Regions from separate parts of the Homo sapiens genome. Here region 1 is linked to region 2. The links come from fine-mapping of genetic effects on plasma protein levels. A gene starts in region 2. The other region holds a variant in brackets. All regions are shown on one strand. Distances are between the middles of the regions.

What was found. PIP is the posterior inclusion probability: the model's chance that the variant is causal. Protein levels are from antibody-based Olink assays in UK Biobank. Linkage for the fine-mapping came from a reference panel and not from the study's own genotypes, which makes the PIPs less certain.
Region 1: its variant is fine-mapped to the plasma level of the MST1 protein (UK Biobank, PIP 0.93).

The regions. Positions count from the first base shown.
Region 1 is chr3:49,752,138-49,756,525 of GRCh38, reverse strand. The region is part of intron 1 of IP6K1 (inositol hexakisphosphate kinase 1); the gene reads left to right. Among named protein-coding and RNA genes, the nearest start is that of GMPPB, 30 kb to the right of the region's middle. The variant C/AC (reference allele first, on the strand shown) is at 1,930.
Region 2 is chr3:49,687,230-49,691,617 of GRCh38, reverse strand. MST1 (macrophage stimulating 1) reads left to right here and starts at 2,144. Exons shown (of 18, transcript NM_020998.4): 1 at 2,144-3,020; 2 at 3,721-3,868; 3 at 3,950-4,062; 4 at 4,140-4,254; 5 at 4,333-4,388. The coding sequence starts at 2,927. It overlaps RNF123 (ring finger protein 123), which reads right to left and starts at 2,061. Exons shown (of 39, transcript NM_022064.5): 1 at 2,012-2,061; 2 at 371-488; 3 at 109-193. The coding sequence starts at 452. RefSeq lists enhancers at 2,231-2,790, 4,307-4,388.

The sequences.
Region 1 (4,388 bases), 65 kb before region 2:
CTTTTTGTGCATTTCATTTTGATTTCCCCTGTATCACTTTGAACGTCAGTTCTGAAAATTCTTCACATATCTCCTTTCCCCCACTTCTTAGTACATTTGACACAGCTGATGTCAAAAGGGTCTTTACTAAAAAATGTATTTAGGGAAGCACATATTTCTAATCTTTAGGAATCCAGTAAAAACAGGAAAGAGGTTCAGTGGACTCTAGATTCTCTCCTTGACCTAAATTAATTCTGTTCTTGCTGTTCGTTGATGGGCTGGCACATCTCAGGTCCCCTGCTAAGTTTCCTTTTTTCCTTGTTCCCTGTTTGTTCTTAGCCAGGTGGCCTCAGGATGCCATGGTTTCCTAGCTCCTGTGATAGGACCCAGGAATCTAAACAATCTTTCATCTCTTCTTTAGAGACAAATGGCAACATAGATTCCCTCTCTTTCTTCTCCCAGATTACTCTAGACATCTATACACATTTCTGGTTTCTGAGGGATGTGCCAGTCCCTAGTAGCTTGGAAGGGTAGGTTCCAAGTAGGGTTGACAGCCCTACTTACATGAAGAACACTCCCTATGTTTCCCTTCTCCTCACGGTACAGGAGGATTGTTCTCTCTCACCCTCATAACTATGCCTAATCTATATCAGTGTCTACAGTCTCATATACAAAGGGAAGAATGGGCTTGAATTTAAGAAATCATTGGATTCCCTTGGTTGTAAGATTTAGAGGACAAACGTGTTTTCATGTTGGTTTTCTGCTATAGTGTTTTTGTCTGTGATTCTTGAAGGTGTTTTGGTATCTTTTCCTGTCAAAGTCCATGTCAATGCTTTTTTATTTCTGAAATTAATTAGAAATTAGTTTTCATAAAATCCAGAGCTGTATAGCCCAAGTTTTATGTGTTGTTCTTTTCTGTTAGAGTGACTTATCAGTTTATTTTCTCTTCAGCTCTTTTCAGTTCAATTAGTTTTATTATTTTTCCTTTGGATTGTATCATACAGTAAAAAACAAATTAAAGACACATTTGCCAAAACCAAAAATACTGTTGCCAGAATTTTACTTAGCATTCCTGACTTACCAAGTTTAACTTTAATTACACAAATTTTATGAATTTTAAAAAGGGTATGATACTTTGTCATGGTACCTATAGTGCTTAAGTGGATATATTTAATTTTAGAAGAGGTAATAGAAATACTGGATTTATAAACTAATTTTTAATGAAATGTTGAGGAAATCTGCAAATATACCTGTGAAATGTGAAGGCACTAAAGGTGCTTCACTTTATTCTATAAAAACATTGCAAATGTGGCTGGGCATGGTGGCTCATGCTTGTAATCCCAGCACTTTGGGAGGCCGAGACAAGTGGATATCTTGAGCTCGGGAGTTCGAGACCAGCCTGGGCAACATGGTGAAACCCTGTCTCTACAAAAAAAAAAAAAAAAAAAAAGCCAGGCTTGGTGGCACACACCTGTGTTTTCAACTACTTGGAAGGCTGATGATATGGGAGGATCACTTGAGCCCAGGAGGTCGAGGCTGTAGTGATGTAGTGAACTGTGTTGTGCCACTGCAATCTAGTCTGGACAACAGTGTGAGACCCTGTCTCAAAAAAAAAAAAAAGATTGCATATCAAACCCAAGTGGTTAATCTGAGGTTGTAAAAATATGTTGGCCAAATAATTTGGAATTCTAACTGAACTTCTTAGAGTATATACCTGCTGATCTGCATTTTTAGTGTGTGTCTGTGCCTGCCCAACTAAAGAATCTGGTGACCAGGTATTGTCTTGCAATTGCTGTAGAGACAGTGCCTTCCTAGCTCTTAAAGTAGTCCTGACCTTGTTCGCCACTATATCTGATTGCAGTCTCTTTTTCCCTGCCAAGGTTTTTTATTCATTGTCACTTTCTAGGCTTGATGTGTTGTTGCATTAAAATAAACACACACAAAAAAAAA[C/AC]TCATATGATTTCTCCTAAATTTGGTTCAACAAGTTCTTTAGTCTGGTTCTTCTCCTTACTATCATTATTATTGTCATTGAGACAGCATCTTGCTATGTTGCCCAGACTGGTCTTGAACTCCTGGCCTCAAGCAGTCCTTCCACCTTGGCCTTCCAAAGTGTTAGGATGACAGGTGTGAGCCACCATACATGGCCTGATTCATCTTTTTTTTTTTTCCCCTGAGACAAGATCTGAATCTGTCACCCAGGCTGGAGTGCTGTGGCATGATTTCAGCTGATTGCAACCTCCACCTCCTGGGCTCAAGCCATCCTCCCACCTCAGTCTCCTGAGTAGCTGGGACTATAGGTGTACACCACCACGCCTGGCTAATTTTTGTAATTTTTTTTTTTTTGGTAAAAGTGAAGTTTTGCCATGTTGCCTATGCTGGTCTCAAACTCCTGGGCTCAAGTGATCCTCCAGCCTTGGCCACCCAAAGTGTTAGGATTACAGGCATGACTACCACAGCTGGCCTGATTAATCTTTTATAGTTGAGATTATTTATGTGTTTGCCTGATTTTTTTCCCCCTTTTTAATCTCTTTTGTATCATTGATAAAAACAGTCTAATTCTCCTCCTCATAGGCTGTCTTTTTCCTTCTGTATTTTGCTTTGATTTTGTCCTTGTTATTGTGGCTATTCTCATTTGGGTGCATTTAAACCTATTTTTCCTTCATATATCAAATCTTAAAAGAGTTAAAACACAATTTTATGTTCTTTTTATTTGCTGACTTCGAATTCTGTCATGTGGCCAACATATTTTGTTTTTCATAAAGCCACATGACCCGTTTGTTCTGGTTTTTGCTAGGTCTAGGTTAGAAATGTAAACTTTTTTGGTTTATAACCCTAATATTTTAAAACAAAAAGAACTTGTCCCTTTATAAACACTTTTTCATATGTTATATATTTACCCTACTATATACATCTGTTATGTATATCATAAACATACATATATTTATTCAGCCAGATTTATTGTGTAGTTACTATATGCCAGGTACTACTCAGGGCACTTAGGATACTCATATAACTGACATCATCATCATAAATAATAAACAGTAGACATTATCAGTAAGTAAAGTATGTAATATGCCAGAAGGGGATAAATGCCTTAATGAAGAAAAGAAAAAGAAGAGCCAATTAAAGGGGGTGGAGGGTGCAGGTGGTGGTGTATTTTAAACTAGGGAGGGTAGGATAGACCTTTCATTGAGAAAGAGACATTTTGATCAAAGACTTTTGAAGGAGGTGAGGGAGTTGGCCATGTGGTTATCTGGGGGAAGAATGTTTAGGCAGAGGGAATGACTAGTGCAAAGAAGCTAGGGAATATATATATGCCTGATGTGTTTGAGGAACATCATGAAGGCCAGTATGGCTGGAGTGGGATAATAAGCAGTGGGGAGACAAGGGTAGGAAGTGAAGGCAGAGAGAAAATGGGGGTGGGAAGGAATGCAGAGCTTGTGGACTTTTTATTTTTTGACAGTCTCATGGCAAAAAGTGAAATGGCGGCCAGGCATAGTGGCTCATGCCTGTAATCCCAGCACTTTGGGAGGCTGAGGCAGGCAGGTCATCTTGAGGTCAGAAGTTTCAGACCAGCCTGGCCAACATGACAAAACCCCGTCTCTAGTAAAAATACAAAAATAAAATTAGCTGGGCATGGTGGGGTGCGCTTGTAGTCCCCACCTACTTGGGAGGCTGAGGCATGGGAATTGCTTGAACCCAGGAGGTGGAGGTTGCAGTAAGCCAAGATCGCACCACTGCACTCCAGCCTGGGTGACGAAGTGAGACTCTGTCTCAAAAAAAAAAAAAAAGGCTAGGCGCAGTGGCTCACGCCTGTAATCCCCAGCACTTTGGGAGGTCTAGGCGGGCAGATCACCTGAGGTCGGGAGTTAAAGACCAGTCTGGCCAACATGAGAAACCCCGTCTCTACGGTAGGAGAATCACTTGAACCTGGGAAGTGGAGATTGAGGTGAGCCGAGATTGCACCATTGCCACTCCAGCCTGAGCAACAAGAGCGAAACTCACACACACACACACACACATGCAAAAGTGAAATGGTTCCTTGGGTTTTTTTTTTTTGAGATGGAGTCTTGCTCTGTTGCCCAGGCTGGAGTGCAGTGGCGCGATCTCGGCTCACTGCAAGCTCTGCCTCCCAGGTTCCACGCCATTCTCCTGCCTCAGCCTCCCGAGTAGCTGGGACTACAGGCGCCCGCCACCACACCCGTCTAATTTTTTTGTATTTTTAGTAGAGACGGGGTTTCACTGTGTTAGCCAGGATGGTCTCAATCTCCTGACCTTGTGATCCACCCGCTTTGGCTTCCCAAAGTGCTGGGATTACAGGCGTGAGGCACTGCACCCGGCCAACCCTGTCTTTAAAAAAAAAAAATTTTTTTAAGTTAGCCGGGCATGGTGAATATACTTGTAGTCCCA
Region 2 (4,388 bases):
AGCCTAAGCCTATCTGTCCAGAGCCCAGGCTCCCTTTCCCTACAACTGCAGCCTCCTTATTCTGGTCTGGCCCAGCAGAGTGAGGAGGGGCCACCCACCCAGCCATACCTGCTGGTGGCTGCTGGGGGTGCATGTTCAGAAGAGGAAAAGATGCGGTTCAGGTAGTCATTCAGCAGCTTCTCCTGCACAATGCCTGAGCCACAAGTCAGAAGGGAGAAAAGGGCCACATGATCAGTGCAGCTCCTGGCCCCTGCTGGCCCCAGAGACTTCTGGTCCTAGGCCAGCCACAGGTGCAGCAAGGCCTGAGGCCTTTGTCCCTTCCTTCTCCTCCCAACAAGAGGAGCCTCCTTCCTTCCCTGCCAGCTCTTACCTGTGACCCTGGATTTCTCAGCATCTGAGGTCAGCCTATAGCTCTTGCGGGAGAAAGACATGCCGGCCCCCTTGGATGCCATCCTTCATCTCTCATGGGCAGCCAGTGGTCCTGGGGGCTGAGCCAGACACAGAGCCTGTCTACTCAGGGCCAGCCAGGGGCCCCCACACCTGACCTCAGTCCTGCCATGGCAGGAAGGCTTGGGAGCAGGTGAGGCCAGGGGCATGCACACTAACACATAGGGCAGGGGAATGCAGGGGCTCCCAGCTTCCTACACAGGGAGGGTAGCCAGGGTCTAGGCCCATGTAACAGGGACCACTTCTTGTTCTCCAGTGTCCCTGTGCCCAGCACAGGGCTGGGCAGAGAGCAGGTACTAGATATATTTTTGCCGAACCATAACAAAATGTCTCAGCTCTGTGGAAATCAGACCAAAATGTCCAAAGTGAGGTGTCCTAGGGGCAGAGCCCCTGTATCCATCTCAGTTGTAAGCCATACTGAGTCCAGCTCACAACCAGAAGCGACAATCCTACACATTCCCCCAAGTGCAGACCACCACTGGTCTGGTCATCTCTAGCCATAAGTCCCACTTACTCCCCACAAGGCTGGAGCCTCTTTCCTCAGCCCTGGGTTCCTCCCTTCTTTTATCCATGGTCCTGATAGTTTCACCATTCCCACTCACACATGTGGCCTCCCACCTCATCCAAGCACCACCCTTGCCCAGCCCTCATGGCAAACTCCATTGGTCCTCCTAGTGCATCTATCCCTCACATCATGTTGCTGCTGCAGCTGCTCCAGAACCTGCACTGAGTCCCTGGTGCTGGCCTCACTGATGTGTAGCGGTGCTGTCCAACACAGCAGCCGTCATCCACATGAGGTTACTTAAATTTAAAGTTTTAAAAATTAACAATTCGATTTCTCAGTTGCCTTAGCCACATTTCAAGAGTTCAATGACCACATGTGGCTAATGGTTACTCTGTTGGACAGCACAAAGGTAGAACGTTCCCACCATCATATAAAGTTCTATTAGACAGCGCAGGTCTAGAGTTTCGCTCTGCAGCACTGCCTTAGCCAGCACTCCCTACTCTGCAGTTCAGTCTCTTATCTCACCCCAAACAGACCCTCTACTCCCGCCACAAACCCTTGTGGGTCTGCACCACGCCTGCTCCTCGGGAAGGTGATTTTCCCGACCTCGGGCCCTCGGTGGGCGTCCATGATCGGTGCCCCTTCACTACCAGAGTAGTTGAAGATCTGATTAAACTCAGTCATTCATTTGATGAGCAGACCTTCCAGACACCCGGAGTGGGCTCCGGGAGTCAGTTGCTGAGGACCCAGGTGAGAGGCGGACCTTGTCCCCGCCCGGGGACTCCCTGTCACGGCTATCCCGTCCAACCCCGCCGGGGTATCCGGACTCAGAACTGAACCTACTCCGTCTGGGAGCCCAAGGACGGCGAGGGCGGCGCATGGCTCCCCCAAGTCGCCCCCGCCTGGCCCCAAGCTCCACAGGACCTGCCAGACCAGCTTCCGCTCGGAGTTTCGCACCCAGATCCCTGCGCTGCAGGTGCCCTCGCACTGGACTAGCCCGGACCGCGAAGGGAATAGCCGGAACCCGCCAGGCTCAGAGCCCTGCCGCCCCTCACTCACCCGGAGCCTCGGCCGCAGCGACCCGGCTCACAACATCCGCCCAACCTCTTGGCTACGGCGTCCGTTCAGGGCCAAATCACGCGCACGCTTGCGCGCTGAGCCTCCAGCCGCGCACGCGCACTGGCCCGCGCCCAGCCTCCGCTAGGGGACCCCCTCCATGGCTTCCCACCGGGTTGTTCCAGGCCTCAGCTTCGCCGAAAGGCCTCACCACCTCCGACCTCCGCCTGCTCTGGGGATGCTCCCAGCCCTGCTGCGGCAGAACGCGACATGCTAACCGGAATCCCTAGGCCGCCTGTCTCCTACCCATACTTAGAGGCCCCGCTCAGACGGTCCTTAAAACGTCTGAAAGGCCGTTCCTGCCAGAGTCCCTGCTACCTGTTACCTCCACCCCTATTTAGTCCTAGTGGACAGCCTCGCTCACCTTCCCTGGGATGACACTTCTGGCGGCTGAGATGAGCGAGCCTCTCTGGGCTCTGCCGCCGGGTGTGGGCTGACCTGCCTACAGCTGGGGCCTGATAAGGCAGCAGCAAAAGGGTGGAGGGGAGGCAGTGTTGAAGCTGGGGCAAGTAATTTTCCCCAATTTACAGGGAAAAACCGAAATTCAGAAAAGTTTAATGTCACCCAGGGGCTGGAGCCCAGACCTCTGGCAGCTCTCACTTTCACAATGCCCTTGGGCTGACTAGGCTGCAGAGGGGTTTCACCCCAACCCCAGGGCACCTCAAGTGTCCCCACCAAACCTTCCTAACACCTGTCCACTAAGCTGTACTAGGCCCTTGCAACTGACCTATGGGACCTGAGGCCTGGCCCCTCATGGCTCCTGTCACCAGGTCTCAGGTCAGGGTCCAGCAGGCCCTGAGCTGACGTGTGGAGCCAGAGCCACCCAATCCCGTAGGGACAGGTTTCACAACTTCCCGGATGGGGCTGTGGTGGGTCACAGTGCAGCCTCCAGCCAGAAGGATGGGGTGGCTCCCACTCCTGCTGCTTCTGACTCAATGCTTAGGGGTCCCTGGTAAGTGCCCCCAACCCTGATCCCCATCTGCCTTCAGGAGGGGGTTGGCCCCATTCTCCTATTCTAGGATGAGAAAAAAGTCGGGGAGCCAGAGGCTCAGTGGGCATGGGGCAGTGACCTTGCCCTCTTGAGCACAGCTGGGAAGCCCTAGGAACACATAGACATTGCCCACTTAGGCCTCTATTAGCACGTCTGCTCTAGCACTGAAGCAGTGTCAGGACCACACAGATGCACGCACACAGCAGGCAGTGACCCCTCCTGAGCCTGATCTACCCCTCTAACCTAGCATATGCCTTTGTGCAGGTGAGAGCCCAGATTTGGAGTCTGAATGCCTAGCCAGGGCCCCTGGCTGGGTAATGTGATGGCTCTGAGCCTTAGCATTCTCATTTGAGAGATGAGGTGGGGCAAGCTTCATCACCCACTGCTCTCACAGAGCGTATGTGTTAGATCTGAGCCCGGTGCCTGGGCCACTAAACAGAGGCACCGGTGATAACTACCAAGTCTGGGCCTGCTTCCCAGGGGAAATTTTTTTCACAAGTATCTGTGCAGGGGGCTAGACTGGCCCTTGAAAGTGCATACAGGGTCCATCCCAGAAGCCTTGTAGCTTTGATCCCCTGAATGAACAAAGTGTGGACATGCCAATACACATTACTGACATGTATGCCCACCTGACCTGCACCCACTCATGCCTACTCTGCAGGGCAGCGCTCGCCATTGAATGACTTCCAAGTGCTCCGGGGCACAGAGCTACAGCACCTGCTACATGCGGTGGTGCCCGGGCCTTGGCAGGAGGATGTGGCAGATGCTGAAGAGTGTGCTGGTCGCTGTGGGCCCTTAATGGACTGCCGGTGAGTGGCCACTGGGCCTAGATAAGACTGGGGGCAGGGAAGCCTGGGCTGTGGCGTTACCCTGTGCCTTCTTCTCTCCAGGGCCTTCCACTACAACGTGAGCAGCCATGGTTGCCAACTGCTGCCATGGACTCAACACTCGCCCCACACGAGGCTGCGGCGTTCTGGGCGCTGTGACCTCTTCCAGAAGAAAGGCAAGTGGGGGTGGAGAGGGGCAGGGTGGGAGACAGGGGACCTCAGCCCAAGTTGATCTTCTGTCTCTTGCTCCCAGACTACGTACGGACCTGCATCATGAACAATGGGGTTGGGTACCGGGGCACCATGGCCACGACCGTGGGTGGCCTGCCCTGCCAGGCTTGGAGCCACAAGTTCCCAAATGATCACAAGTGAGACAAACACCTTCCCTCCGTCCCGGCCTGGGGCCTTCCCCCAGCACACACTATAGTGATGCTCTGGGCCCTCAGGTACACGCCCACTCTCCGGAATGGCCTGGAAGAGAACTTCTGCCGTAACCCTGATG